Linked DNA regions of Homo sapiens. The protein of the gene in region 1 interacts with the protein of each later gene in a pairwise test. Each region holds a gene or a part of one and is shown in the gene's direction. Other genes may lie near its edges.

What was found. The genes of interacting proteins can lie anywhere in the genome.
Region 2: the proteins of MX1 (region 1) and ZNF623 interact in a two-hybrid assay, tested with the Homo sapiens proteins (one study listed by BioGRID).

Annotation. Positions count from the first base shown.
Region 1 is NC_000021.9:41,449,756-41,457,967, forward strand, and holds part of MX1 (interferon-induced GTP-binding protein Mx1), read left to right. Parts: intron 1-1,411; coding exon 1,412-1,488; intron 1,489-2,865; coding exon 2,866-3,114; intron 3,115-8,212.
Region 2 is NC_000008.11:143,645,413-143,653,018, forward strand, and holds part of ZNF623 (zinc finger protein 623), read left to right. Parts: exon of another isoform or gene 1-1,395; intron 1,396-2,690; exon of another isoform or gene 2,691-2,993; intron 2,994-4,371; exon of another isoform or gene 4,372-4,460; coding exon of another isoform or gene 4,461-4,580; coding exon 4,581-6,071; 3' UTR 6,072-7,606. UniProt on the Homo sapiens protein: May be involved in transcriptional regulation.

The DNA of each region.
Region 1 (8,212 bases):
TGGGGGCACCATCCTCATGGCACAGAGATGTGGTCATCAACCAGGGAGCTCTTGGAACCTCACCGCGGAGAAGGTTTTATGGAGGCCTCATCATGAAGGCATGATGGAGGATTGACTCAATCTCCAGGCCCTCCCTCCTCTGTGGAGCTGGAAGTTCTAAGTTTCTAGCCAAGGCTTGGTCTTTCTAGTGCCCGGCCCCAATCCTGAAGCTATGTAGGGGCCCACCAGGCATCATCTCTTCAAAACACGAGATACTCCTAAGGCTGGACATTCCAAGAGATGTAGGGGCTCTATGTTAGGAAATGGGGACAAAGACAAAATATTTATATTTTTCCTATCACACCACACCTCCCCCCTGCTCCACTGCTATGCTGGCTTCACACTCAAAATCGGCTGTTTATTTGAAATCTCCGAGGAGTAAAGCCAATGGTTCCATAACTGCACGTGTAGATGTGTTTGGAACCTTTTGGAGTGCTGTAGGAATCTAGGTGTGTCACGGATAGGTAGGAAACTAGATCCTACTGTGGATCCACTCCCTTCTTGAAATGCTTTGCTTTCTTGGTTTTCCAGGTATTAAATCTCTATTCTTCATCCTCTCCTTGACTGACAGTATCCTTACTCACACTTCAGCTGCCTCATCTTAGCAGTAATTAATAATCACTCATGGATCCATGAACTAAGGAGCTGGAGATAGCCTCAGAACAGCTCATTCAGAGGTGTATTTCCAGTAAAATTGACCTTTTAGCCCTGATAATCATATACCAAAACCTGCAATCATGTTGTTTTGGTCCATTGTAGACTCTTAACTCATTCCAGAGGAAAGTTTATAATACTTAGAGCCTTATAGTCATAAAAATCAACATAGATATACCTATTTCTTTTTCAGAAATGTATGACATGGAGATCAATAAGAGGTTTTCAATCATAAAGATACTATACCTTGTATTACAATAAAATTCTGTGAGGAAGTAGAATAGAAATGAGTTTCAAAAATAAAAGATAAATAATATAAATTTTTTAATCTAAGAGCTTGTTCTTGTATTTTTTTCAAATGGATAATGTAGACACTCAAATTCCATTGATATATTTAAGAGTGATTTGACTTATATTAAGAGTTGTATTATAAAATATTAATATTTATAATTTAAAAGAAATTACATTCTTTGCAGCTATTTAGGATAAAAAGTTTAAATATCAAATAAATGTATGCCAGGGGTCATTTGCTTTTAAGATTCTTCCAGCAAATTATTAAGCAAAAAGAGCATGCCTTGCTTTTTCATGGTAAAGAGAAGAAGGGAGCGGGGAGAGGGGAAACTTTACTTCATACCATTTGATCCTCATATTTTTTTGCATCTTAAGAAGAGAACAAATGATCCTACCAATATTGAACTATTTTTCTCTCTTTGATTAGATATGGTCCGGCTTGCTTTCACAGATGTTTCGATAAAAAATTTTGAAGAGTTTTTTAACCTCCACAGAACCGCCAAGGTAAAACCAACCATGTGTTGTTTAAAAAAAAAAAAGAAAAGAAATTAAGCTTGACACTAGAAAATAGATTTCTTGGATGAGGATTATTTCAACTTTATTGTATACTTTTAGAACAGCAAATAACATCACTCACTAGTGCTTCTTCTGATGTTACCGGTGATGTCTGGTTAAAAGCAATAAAGGAGGGAGTGCTTAAACGCACAGAACAAGAGATCCACAGTTAGCGGAGAAGATTATCACATCTAAGGGCAATGGCTCCAAATCCAGAAACTCACTGAGGAAACTACATATAAAAATAGAATATTTCTGGCCCGAGTGGGCATGATGAGCCTGTAATCCCAGCACTTTGGGAGGCTGAGGCCGGTAGATGACTTAAAGCCAGGAGTTTGAGACCAGCCTGGCCCACATGGCAAAACCCCATCTCTACTAAAAATACAAAAAAGTAGCTGGACGTGGTGGTGCATGCCTGTAATCCCAGCTACTTGGGAGGCTGACACTTTAGAATTGATTGAGCCCAGGAGGTGGAAGTTGCAGTGAGCCAACATTGCATCACTGCACTCTAGCCTAGGCGATGGAGCGAGACCCCGTCTCAAAAAAAAAAAAAAAAACAAACAAAAAAACTTTCCATCCAGAGTGAGGAAAGAGCCTACAGGAAATGAGCCTGGGGGACAGACTGGGCCAAGAGACCAGACTTAGCCACTCTTAGAAATAGGTGTCCCCGGCACAGATGAGGAGCCTGGCCCCATGATTCACCAGCTGGAGGCCTTGGGATGTGCCACTTCCAGCCTGTGCCCCTGACTCCTCATTCATAAAAGAAGACTGATAAGGCCTTCCTCAGAAGGTTGAGATGGACGTGGAGTAAGATGTTTAGGATGCACCTGCCACTGTGCACTGTGCCTCTCCTCAAGGCCTGGAGGGTCCAGGGGTGAAGTTTCTCCTCCTCAGGTTTTGGCAACCAGTTTCTCTAAACCCCGGGAACATAAAACATAATTTTCTGACTTAAACATGGCTTTCCTGCTCATCCCTGTGGATTATCTGATGGATATGACAATCCTCGCCATCAGATATAGAAGCCCCTAAAAGAGAAAGGAAAGAAGCTGAGTTACGGGGCCTGAAAGCAAGCCTGTGCAGGTCCCCAGGCCCCGGGATGGGGGTCCGGCCCATCTGTGGCTCAAGCCTCCTGGGAAGCTCTGACCCTCAGCCAGGGCTAGAAACCTGCCTTAGATACACCAGGGCGCGGCCCAGAGGGCTGTTCCAGGAAACGTGCTGTTTCACTCACGTTGGGTAACCTGGTATTTACGGACTTCTTACCTACTTTCCTGTGACTCAGGAATTTGTGTCTTGAGGGAAACTGTATTTATTTATTTTTTACTGTAGTCCAAAATTGAAGACATTAGAGCAGAACAAGAGAGAGAAGGTGAGAAGCTGATCCGCCTCCACTTCCAGATGGAACAGATTGTCTACTGCCAGGACCAGGTATACAGGGGTGCATTGCAGAAGGTCAGAGAGAAGGAGCTGGAAGAAGAAAAGAAGAAGAAATCCTGGGATTTTGGGGCTTTCCAGTCCAGCTCGGCAACAGACTCTTCCATGGAGGAGATCTTTCAGCACCTGATGGCCTATCACCAGGTACGTCTTCGCGTGGTTCAGGATGCCAGCTTCCATTCTTTCCTTTTCTTCTGAACGCCTCTCTCTTTAGTCTTGCTCTCTCTGTAGGTGACGTTGGTCAGCTCTGTCGTTTACCTCCTTGTTAGCCTCCTGTATTAGTCCATTTTCATGCTGCTGATAAAGACATACCTGAGACTGGGCAATTTACAAAAGAAAGAGGTTTAACGGACTTACAGTTCCACATGGCTGGGGAGGCCTTCTACCATCACGGCAGAAGGCAATGGGCACTTCTTACCTGGCGGCGGTGGCAAGAGAGAGAATGAGAGCCAAGTGAAAGGGGTTTCCCCTTATCAAACCATCAGATCTCATGAGAGTTACTCACTACCATGAGAACAGTATTGGAGAAACTGCCCCCATGATTCAGTTATCTCCCCCTGAGTCCCTCCCACAACAGGTGGGAATTATGGGAGTACAATTCAAGATGAGATTTGGGTGGGGACACAGAGCCAAACCATATCGCCTTCGTAGAAGCAGCTCAACCTCAGACAGAGAGATGGTGGCTTAGAGCCAGTGACATCTGGTTTTGATGGCTGTCTAGCTCTGGCCAAGTTACTTAACCTCTCTGAGCCTCAGCTTTCTTTGTAAAATGGTGTCTCCTCATAGATTCTAGTGCATATTCCAGGAGACGAGTGTGGATGATGATAATGGATTGCTAATGGAAAAACCAAACTCTGTTAAAATATTTGAAAGAGGTTTATTCTGAGCCAAATATGAGGGACCATGGCTCTGGGAACAGTCTCAGGAGGTCCTGAGGAAGTGTGCCTGAGGCTGTCAGGATGCAGTTTGATTTTATACATTTCAGAGAGGCAGGAATTGTAGGTAAAATCATAAATCAATACATGGGAGGTGTACTTGCCCTCCCTAAAGAGGCAGGACACCTTGAAGGAGGGGGAGCTTACCGGTCATAGGTGGGTTCAGAGATTTTCTGGTTGACGATTGCTTGAAAGAGTTAAACTTTGTCTACAAACTTGACATCAATAGAAAGAAATGCCTGAGTTAAGGCAGTGTTAGAGGCCAAAGGTATGTAGATGAAGACTCTGGGTAGCAGCCTTCAGAGAGAATAAATGGTAAATGTTTCTTTTCAGGCCTTAGAGGCAGCAGGCTCTCAGTTAATCTCTCCTAGATTCAGGGAAGGCCTAGAAGGGGAGAGGTCTGACTGCATTAATGGAGATTCTCTACAGGTGCAAATTCCCCCCCCACAAAACATGGCAGGGCCATTTCAATCTGTTGGTCCTGTTACAGCCGTTTCAAAATATGTCCACAAAATATATTTTTAGGTAAAATATTTGTATTTCCTTTAGGGTCTGCAATCTGTCTTGTGATGCTATACCAGAGTCGGGTTGGAAAGTAAGCCATTTTATACTGAGTTCATGGAAACTCATCCAAGGAGATTTCATGGTTTGTGGGGTGTGTGTGACTTAACCCCTGCCTCACATGACTTTATAATATGGTATCTTACTACTCCAGAGTCTTTTTGGCCAACCTTATGATCTCAATTTCAACCTAAACTCCAAAAGGGCCTGGCTTCTCTTCCTGTTACGGCCAGGAATTCAGATTTTCAGGTTTCTCTGGGGTCCACTTGGCCAAGAGGGGGTCTGTTGAGTTGGCTGGAAGGCATAGGATTTTATTTCTGGTTTACAACAATTTCCTTAGTGCAGCATTGGAATGCAATGGTAGCAGACTAAATGGAAGCTATCGCGTAGACACATGCTTTGGTTGATACTGCACGATTCAGTTAACCTGAAGTACAATCTAATTCATCCTAGGGAAGGAGGCAGTGAACACAGACACAACTCAGGTAGAGCCCTTGGGATGTGTAAACACCTGAGGAGGTAAAGCAAATTGTAATCTCTCGGTTTATCAGATGTCCCCATTGCCTTACTATTTGGATGCTTTAAAGCAGGGCCTCTCAAACTCCACCCAGCACAGAGGCCTCCTGGGATCTTGTGGAAATGCAGATGCTGATTGCAGGTCAGGATGAAGCTGAGATTCTGCCTTTCTTTTTTTTTTTTTTTTGAAACCGAGTCTCACTCCATTACCCAGGCTGGAGTGCAGTGGCACAATCTCAGCTCACTGCAACCTCTACATCCTGGGTTCAAGCAATTCACCTGCCTCAGCCTCCCAAGTAGCTGGGATTACAGGCTTACCTTGCCACCATGCCTAGCTATTTTTTCTATTTTTAGTAGAGATGGACTTTTACCATGTTGGCCAGGCTGGTCTTGAACTCCTGACCTCAAGTGATCTGCCTGCCTCGGCCTCCCAAAGTGCTGGGATTACAGGCGTGAGCCACCATGCCTGGCCTCTGCATTTCTAACGGGCTCTCAGGGGTCACCATACTACTGGATAGAGGCCACACTTGGAGGAGCAAGGCTCTAAACCGAGGGTCAACATCCATTCCTCCAGACACTGGGAGCTGCATGCACGTGAGTGAAGCCAGTTAAGGGGAAGACAGGCATGCACATCAGCTTCTCCTGCAGCCAAGCTCACACCTGTCCGCTGCTTCCACTGCCTCCTAGAATGAACAGTTACCTTGAGAGTAGGTGAGGCATATACATGCACAGAATCCAAACAATAGGATGAGTGACAATGGCAGAGGAGTCTCCGAGCCAAGCAGCTCCCTGGACAGAAGCAGCCCTTCTCCGGGTTCATTTCTGTCCTCCGAGGCTGACTCATGCACTCAAAAGCTCCCATGCATATACATTTTATAATGGTTTTTACACAAAGGTTAGCAGAGGAGTGGACGTGCTGCTCTGTACCCTGCCTCTTTTGCTGTACCTGGGAGATTGTTCTGCCTCAGTTCTGATGGGGCTGCCTTGTTCTTTTCAATGGCTGCTGAGTATCCCATTTTATGGATGTGGTATATTGAGCCAGCTCCCTTTAAGCGAACAGTTTGTTTGCAGTCTTTTGCTAATGCAGGTGTGTTGCTGTGAATAGGTTTGTTTGTATATCATGTATCTGGAAGCATCAATTCCTAGAAATGAGATTCCTGGTATATTAGGATTGTGCAGGGAAACAGAACCACAGATATATGTATGTAAAGAAGTATATTTCAGCCAGGCATGGTGGCTCATGCCTGTAATCCCGGCACTCTGGAAGGCTGAGGTGGGTGGATCTCTTGAGGCCAGGAGTTTGAGACCAGCCTGGCCAACATGGCGAAACCCGGTCTCTACTAAAAATACAAAAAAATTAGCTGTGCATGGTGGCCCATGCCTATAGTCCCAGCTACTTGGGAAGCTGAGATATGAGAATTGCTCGAACCTGGGAGGCAGAGGTTGCAGTGAGCCAAGATCACACCACTGCACTCCAGCCTGGGTGACAGAGCGAGACTCCATCTCAAAACAAACAAACAAACAAAAAACAAAACAAAACAAAAAACAGAAGGAAAGAAAGAAATATATGTATATTTCAAGGAATTGGCTTCTGCCATTTTGGGAGCTGGCAAGTCCAAAATCCCAGGGCAGGCCAGCAGGAAGAGCAGGCCAGAAATTGCAGCAGGAGCTAAGGCTGAGTCCACAGGCGGAATTTCTTCTTTTTAGGGAAACCTCATTTTTCTTCTTAAGACCCTCAACTGATTGGATGAGGCCCATCCACATCATTGAGAATGGTCTCCTTCACTTAAAGTCAGTGGGTTACACATGTTACCCACATCTACAGAATACCTCCGCAGCAATACCTAGATTCGTGTTTGATGGAATCACTGGGGACTCGAGCCTAGCCAAGCTAACACATGAAACACACCATCACAGCTGGGGAAAGGATGGCTTATTTTAGACTGATAAAGATGACCCAGAGAAGGCCTGCTCCATCCACACTGGCCGCTTTAGTCTGCACTAAAGTTGTTGGTTTTTTTTGTTTGTTTGGTTTTTTTTTGGTGACAGAGTCTCACTCTGTCGCCCAGGCTGGAGTGCAGTGGCGCAGTCTCAGCTCACTGCAACCTCTGCATCCTGAGATCAAGCGATTCTCCTGCCTCAGCCTCCTGAGTAGCTGGGACTACAGGCACGTGCCACCACACTCGGCTAATTTTTGTTTTTTCAGTAGAGACGGGGTTTCACCATATTGGCCAGGCTGGTCTTGAACGCCTGACCATGTGATCCATCCGCCTCAGTCTACCAAAGTGCTGGGTTTACAGGCGTGAGCCACCACGCCCGGCCTTGTTGGGGTTTTTTGACAGCCTAATAGGTGAAAATGACATCTCATTACAATCTTAATTGGCATTCTCTTATGACAACAAGCTGGTACATCTTTTTGTGTGTTGAGGGTTATTTCTATTTCTTGCTCAGCAAACAGTTCATCCAGGAAGAGCTTCTTGGTGAGATAGTAGACCTCTGCGATTTCTGTTGCAGACGATCTACATTTTGTCATTTGCTTTGTCATTTTTGTCTATGGTGGTTTTAGACTATGCGTAAGTTTTCTAGAGCAGAAACTCAAGTTGGATTTGGGCCTCAGTGGTTATTGCCATACTTTAAAAGGACTTTGTCTCCCTGAGATGATAAATGAGGTGGACAATATTTTCTTTAAGTAATTTCTTATTTTAACTGTTACATGATACCTTTGGCCCATTTGGAGTTCTTTGATGTCAAGAATGAGGCAGGATCCAGATGGCAGCAGAGGTCCCAGTCCCATCCTGGAAGGGTCGTCTAGTTCCCACTGGTACTCCACACGCCCACTCAGGCACTCACTTCCCCTCTGCGTTGGGTCTTGTCTGCAAGACTCTCTTATGTTTTACCATCTAGTGCAGCCAGCACCCCCACATCACCCTCACTTTTTCTTTCTTTAAATTGTGCAGAAATATTCATCATGTCTATTTTGCCATCTTAACCATTTGGGGGTACATAGTTCAGTGGCATTAAGTACATTCATATTGTGCCAGCATCACCAGCAGCCATCTCCAGGACCCTATCACCTTCCCACACTGAAACTCTGTCCCCATTAAACACATTCCCCATTCCCCGCCCCTGAATCCCTGACAGCTACCATCCTACTGTCTGTCTCTGTGAATTCAACTAACCTAAGTACCTCATAGGAGTTGTGACTGGCTTGTTTCATGCAGTATGATGTC
Region 2 (7,606 bases), on another chromosome or scaffold:
CAGATCGAGACTCCATCTCAAAAAAAAAAAAAAGACAAATCCTCAGACTTGAGGCTGGTAAAGTGCAGGCGCCAAGAAAGAAACTTTCTCTCAAAGCAGTCACTGTTCCTTTGGTCTCTGCTTTCAGAGAGTGGATTCTGGCTTCCCCCCTTTCCATGGCAGAGCCTCAGATATCATTGTTTCGTTATAACATCTATGAGGGAAAAAGTGATTCCTGGCTGGGAGCACCATGTGTGGAGTGTGCACATTCTCCCCACGGCCGCCTGCTTTCCTCCACGTCCCAAAGATGTGTCCATTAGGTGAATTGGGGTGTCTCCTTGGTCCCAGCATGAGCGAGTTTGGGTGTGTGAGTTGCCCTGTGGTGGGACCCTGTCCTATCCGGGGCTGGTTCTCACCTCGCACCCTGAGCTGCCAGGATAGGCTCCAGCTACCCAGAACCGTGCATTAAAATAAGTGGGTAAATAATTATCTTGTTTTTCTTAATTTTTTTTTTTATGGGAGATTTTCCAGTAAAAACTGAGAAACCTGCTAGACATTCTAAAAGAGCTGTAGCAAGCACTGTTAATCTTTCTTTAAGGTAAGGTATGTATAACTCACATTTATTTCAGTGTTTAATACTAGAAGTGTTGGAGCTTTTTTTTTAATTAGAGACAGGGTCTCACTCTGTCACCTAGGTTGGAGTTCCATGGCATAGTCATGGCTTACTACAGCCTCAAACCTCTGGGCTCAAGTGATCCTCCTGACTTAGCCTCCCAAATAGCTGGGACCACAGGTATGCAACATCACACCCAGCTAAATAAAAAATTGTTTTTTAGAGATGGAGTCTTGCTATGTTGCCCAGGCTGGTCTTGGACTCCTGGCCTCAAGTAGTCCTCCTGCTTTGGCCACTGGAAATGCTGGGATTATAGGCATGAGCCACTGTACCTGGCTTATTACCTTGTATTGAGTGTATTATGTATGCATGATTAGAACATTCATTCATACAGCAGATATTGATGAAATGTATTACTTTATGCCAGAAATTGTTTGGGTTGCTGAGGATAAAGAACAGAACAAAGTTCCTGCCCACACAGCACTCACATACTTGTGGGGGAGACAACAAAACACATAGTTTGTTGCCTGTGGGGTGTGTGCGTGTGTGTGTGTGTGTGTGTGTGCATGCATGTATATATCACAATTCATTGATTCTAAGATACACTTTCTCCATATTTTAATGTCTCTGAAATTGAGTTGCCTGTTAGAATTGATGGAGTGTTTTTTGTTGTTGTTTGAGACAGGGTTTTGCTCTGTCACCCAGGCTGGAATGCAGTGGCACAAGCACGGCTCACTGCAGTCTCAACTTCCTGGGCTCAAGTGATTCTCCTGCCTCAGTCTCCCATGTAGTTGGAACCACAGGTGTGCTACCTTGCCTGGCTGTTTTTAAAAATGTTTTTTGTAGAGATGGGATCTTTCTACCTTGCCCAGGCAGACGTTGAACTCCTGGTCTCAAGTGACCCTCCCACCTCTGCCTCCCAAAGTCTTAGGATTACAGGAGTGAGCCACTGTGCCTGGCTTGATGGAGTGTTTTCATTTAAATTGGTACTTTTATTTTCCTTCATGGTTCATAAAATTGTGTCACATCTCGCAGTCGATGGCTGCTTTGATTGGGTGACTTATGATTGGTCAAGTGGTCAGAACTGTGCAGAGAAAGCAGAGGCAGGAGAGAGGGCATGCTGAGGGTGGGGGTGCCTTGCTGTTTTTTTTTTTTTTGTTTTGTTTCGTTTTTTGAGACGGCGTCTTGCTCTGTCACTCAGGCTGGAGTGCAGTGGCACAATTTTGGCTCACTGCAAGCTCCGCCTCCTGGGTTCAGGCCATTCTCCTGCTTCAGCCTCCCAAGTAGCTGGGACTACAGGCGCCTGCCGCCACGCCCGGCTAATTTTTTTTGTATTTTTGGTAGAGATGGGGTTTCAGTGTGTTAGCCAGGATGGTCTCGATCTCCTGACCTCGTGGTCCGCCCGCCTCTGCCTCCCAAAGTGCTGGGATTACAGGCGTGAGCCACCATGCCCAGCCAGCCTTGCTGTTTTATAGTGTGACTAGGAGGGACTCTGATCAGGTGACGTCAACACAGACACCTGAAGGACATCTAGGAGTGAACCCTGCAAATATCTTTGGAGTCTTTCTACGAAAGTGCAAAGGCTCCGAGGGGGCAGGGACTGCAGGGGCCAGTGTGACCAAAGAAGAGGGAAGGGGAGGGCAGGGTGAGCAGCAGGAGTCCAGGCCCAGTGGCCCTTGTGGGGCCAGAGTAGGGGATGGGAAACCTTTGTCAGTTTTGAGTAGAAAAGTGACATCTGATTTATGATTTTAAAGCGTAATTCTGCTGGCTGTGTAGAAAAGAGCTGGAGAAGGGGAGAAGTAAGCAGGTGGGAGGTGGTCACGCTTCATGGTGAAAGGCGATGGTGCAGATGGCAGCCCTGTAGGCTGTGGGCGTCTGGCGCTGGGCATGGTTTTGAACAGATGTGGAGTGTGAACAAAGGGAAGAGGATTCAAGGGTTATTGCAGTGTCTGTGGCCTGAACAAATGAGATAATGGAGAAAACTATAGAAGGAGGAAAATCAGAAGTGAGGCTGGACGCATTAGGGTTGAAAAACTTCTGAGAGCATCCAAATGAAGGTGTTGGGTGAGGAGCTGGTCAGGTGTTGGGGCTGGAAAGAAGGCCAGGTTGGAGGCAGGCATGTGAGTGTTCAGCATAGATGGCGTTGGTGTCTGATAATGAGTGCACTCCCCTCTGTAATGGACAGAGATGAGGGCTGAGCCCTAGACACGCCAGGGCTTTGAGGCGTCAGGGGACACTGGGAGGAGCTATCAGTGAGGCGGGTAGGGAACAGAGAAAGGCTGTCCCAGATTCACATAAGGAGAGTGACTTCTGAAGGAGCGGGGCTGTGTCAGTGCCACCGCAGGTTGAGTTGGAAGTGTGGCCATAGCTGACCCCTGATATGGTGACGTGGATGTTTGGGGTGAGAGCCCTACTGTAGTAGGCTCAGGGGAAGGAGGAAATGGAGAAATCGAGCGTGGGGTGGGGGCTCTTTGAATGGGGCTGCGGAGGAGGAGAGTCATGGGGTAGTAATTGGTGGGACATGGGGCCCATGACGTGCATTTTTCAGGTCGCTGGGAACTGGCGCACTTCTTCATGCTGAGGGGAGTGGTGGGCTTGGAGGGCAAGGACTTCAGGATGGAGGAGAGGGATGGGTGCTCAGGTGCTGTCCCTGCATGTGTGAGAGGGAAAGGGAGCTCACACACAAGTGGAAGTGTTGCCTTTAAGTCAGAACAAGGGCAGTTTAACCCAGGTAACAAGCCTGGCAGAGGATGGGTGGAGATACAGGCTGGCAGGAGACGTGGGAGGCAGTGGATGTCCTTGCCTGATTTCTTCTGTTTTCTCATTGAAACAAGAAGCAAGGTCACCAGTGGGGAGGGAGGAGGGAGTGCTGAGTTTGTAAGAAGATAGGAGAAGTGGAAGGTCCTGTGGGGAGTGGGAAGGGTAGGAGTTGCTGGCAGCTCTCAGGCCCCATTAGGCAAGCAGCTCTGAATTTAAAGAGCTCAGTCAGCTGGCTGGATGTGGTGGCTCACGTCTGTAATCCCAGCAGTTTGGGAGGCCGAGGCGGGCAGATCACGAGGTCAGGAGATCGAGACCATCCTGGCTAACACGGTAAAACCCCGTCTCTACTAAAAATACAAAAAAATTAGCCGGGCGTGGTGGCGGGCGCCTGTAGTCCCAGCTGCTTGGGAGGCTGAGGCAGGAGAATGGTGTGAACCCAGGAGGCAGAACTTGCAGTGAGCCGAGATTGCACCACTGCACTCCAGCCTGGGTGACAGAGCGAGACTCCATCTAAAAAAAAAAAAAACAAAAACAAACAAAAAAACAGCAAGAGTGCAGGCACAAATCAAAACACAACCTCGTTTTAACCAAAGGTTGGGCTTTCCCATCCAAGTATCATGGAGGGAGGAAAGGGCAGGGGAGCCCGATTCTGTGCAGGAGGGTGATTCTCATGCAACTTACAGTGAACACAGTGCCCCAGATCATGGGCTCTAAGCTAGGTATGGAGGGGAGAAGAGGACATGAAGGAAGGAATGAGGAACAGTGAAGAGGTGGCAGGGCTGATGTGTTTATACGTTTGTTTAAAGTATCTGTCTCGGTTTTTTAATGGAGTTCAAGCATATCCCCACCCCTCTGCAACTCATCCAGGATTCACTAATGGTCAGAGGAGTGTTGTGCACCACAGACCAGTCTGTCCTGGTGTTGGATGTTAAAAGTGGAGCCACAAAGAAGCCATCTTATGTGGGACAGGCTTGGGTGTGAGACCAGAGCTGTGGGTAGCAGCATGTTGGGTCAGGATGAGGGGCAGAGGAAACACTTTCCACCTCTTGGATATGGATTTTATCCTGCCCTGATTCAGGAGATCCCCATCTGTTAAGTAAGGGGAAAGATGATTTTGTTGTCTTTTGTTTCAGATTCTAATGTAGGAACTGGTGAGAAGAAGGTGACTGAAGCCTGGATTTCTGAGGATGAAAACTCACATAGGACGACGTCAGACAGACTCACGGTGATGGAGCTCCCCTCTCCCGAGTCTGAGGAAGTCCACGAGCCCAGATTAGGGGAGCTCTTGGGAAATCCAGAAGGTCAGAGCCTGGGGAGTTCCCCCTCTCAGGACAGGGGCTGCAAGCAGGTGACAGTGACCCATTGGAAGATCCAGACAGGAGAGACAGCTCAAGTGTGCACCAAGTCAGGAAGAAACCATATTCTGAACTCAGACCTTCTTCTGCTTCAGAGAGAGCTCATAGAGGGGGAAGCCAATCCTTGCGATATCTGTGGCAAAACCTTCACGTTTAATTCGGACCTAGTTAGGCATCGGATTTCGCATGCTGGGGAGAAACCTTACACGTGCGATCAGTGTGGGAAAGGCTTTGGCCAGAGCTCACACCTTATGGAGCATCAGAGAATTCACACTGGAGAGAGACTCTACGTCTGTAATGTGTGTGGGAAAGACTTCATTCACTATTCAGGTCTCATTGAGCATCAGCGCGTTCATTCAGGAGAAAAGCCCTTCAAATGTGCGCAGTGTGGGAAGGCGTTTTGTCACAGTTCAGACCTGATTAGGCACCAGAGAGTTCACACCAGAGAGAGACCTTTTGAATGCAAAGAGTGTGGGAAAGGCTTCAGTCAGAGCTCCTTACTTATTCGCCATCAGAGGATTCACACGGGAGAAAGGCCCTATGAGTGCAATGAATGTGGGAAATCCTTCATAAGGAGCTCGAGCCTCATTCGCCATTATCAGATCCACACAGAAGTGAAACAGTATGAATGCAAAGAATGTGGGAAGGCATTCCGTCATCGCTCAGACCTTATTGAACACCAGAGAATTCACACCGGAGAGAGACCCTTTGAATGCAATGAGTGTGGGAAAGCCTTTATTCGGAGTTCAAAGCTCATTCAGCATCAGAGGATCCATACTGGGGAGAGGCCTTACGTATGCAATGAGTGTGGGAAGCGCTTCAGCCAGACGTCAAACTTCACCCAGCATCAGAGAATTCACACTGGAGAGAAACTCTATGAATGTAACGAGTGTGGGAAAGCTTTCTTTCTGAGTTCATACCTTATTCGACACCAGAAAATCCACACTGGAGAGAGAGTGTATGAATGTAAGGAATGTGGGAAAGCGTTTCTCCAGAAAGCCCATCTCACTGAGCACCAGAAGATCCACTCTGGGGACAGGCCCTTCGAATGTAAAGACTGTGGGAAAGCCTTCATCCAGAGCTCCAAGCTGCTTCTGCACCAGATTATTCACACTGGAGAAAAGCCCTATGTGTGCAGTTATTGTGGGAAAGGCTTTATTCAGAGGTCAAACTTCCTTCAACACCAGAAAATTCATACTGAAGAGAAGCTCTATGAATGTAGTCAGTATGGGAGAGATTTTAACTCAACTACAAACGTTAAAAATAATCAAAGGGTTCACCAAGAGGGACTCTCCTTGAGTAAGGCCCCCATACATTTGGGTGAGAGGTCTGTAGATAAGGGGGAACACACAGGTAACTTATAAAATAATTACTTTCCCGCCCAGTGAGTGATGTTTGGAAATGCGTGGAATTAGGATTCATGTGGTTTCTAAGATTTGGACATGTCAGAATTTTGTGAGTCATGGATGGGGCTGCTTTTGCAGTGGGTGCCACCTGCCACTGTGCAGCCCTACTCGGCTCAGCCCTTCTCCTCAGCTGTGAGCACTGTCCTCAGGAGAGTCACAGGGCTTGACACCTGACTCTGAGCTGGAACAGTAGGGGCAGGGAGAAGACAGGTCTCAAGAAAAGGTTTTTAAGAAGTTTCATCCCCAGTTAAGCAGAGTCCATCCTTGACTTAAATCCCTTATTACAGCACAACTGTGTATCTAATCTTACGATTTAGGAGAATGTTACCTAGGACATTTTGATGTGTTAAGTTGAAGAAAGGTAACTCGTGTATGAACCCCGAGCCATTTCCCTGTTGTCCTGAGGAGGAACTCCAGGCCTCCCATCGTGTGCCCTAAGGCCTCCTGCGTCCTGGAGCCCTGCCTCCCACTGCCTGACTTCCTGCCACACGGTTAATGCTGCAGCAACACCGACTGCTTCATCTTCCCTGTGCTCCACGTGGCTTCCTACCTCTCTCGCCTTTGTTCTTGTTGAAGGGTCTCTTCTCAGCTAATTAACTCTGAATCATGGTTCAAGACAAGCCTCAGGCATCATGTCAATGGGTGTTTCCCTCAAGCTTAGTTGGCAGCACTCTCCACACTTCTGTGGCTCAGTGATTACTGCTATTACTATATTTACTTGCATATGTCAGAATGATGTGATAGACTATCTCTGTCACTATGCTGTTGGGTTCCTGAGGACAGTGATCATATCTGATTGATTTCCATGTGTCCACTGTCTAGCACAGGGCAATAAAAAATACACCCCTAAATCTATGTGTAATTGGCATCTCTCTTGCTTTGTCCTTTCTATACTGCCATTCTAAAAATTTTCAGCTGTTGGCTGTTTTTTTTGTTGTTTGTTCATTTTGTATCAGTATAATCTACGATTCTGTTAGAAGTATCTTCTCAGCCCTGCTACTGTCTGCTGCTCCTACTTAGAAGTTGCAGGCAATATCCTGTGCACATCCACGCCCTCCTGTGTGCCACCTTACAGCTCATGCAGAACTGTCTACTTGATCTGGAGGGCATTGACACCTGGCTCAGCTGGAACAGTGGGGACAGGAGGAGGCAGGTCTCAAGAGAAGGTCTTTACTTACTTGTCTGTATCTTTCTGTCTCACTCGAAAGGCACAGTCTCAATGCGCTACGTAACTCTTCTGTTGTAGCAGTTCTGAGGTTGAACTGAGCTCTTGTCATTTTCCATGCTCTCTGGCTCATTGTGTCATTTCAAAATGTATTGATATCTATAAGGAATAGTCCTCAATGTTGGGAAAACAGATGAGCAACCCACTACCCTGAAGTCATCCACCGTGTAGTGGGGAAGACGGAGATCACAGTAGGGTGAGTTAAGTATGTGCCCTCAGGTGTGAAGGAGCACAGGTGAGGGGGTGCCTGCTGTGGCACAGAGCTGGG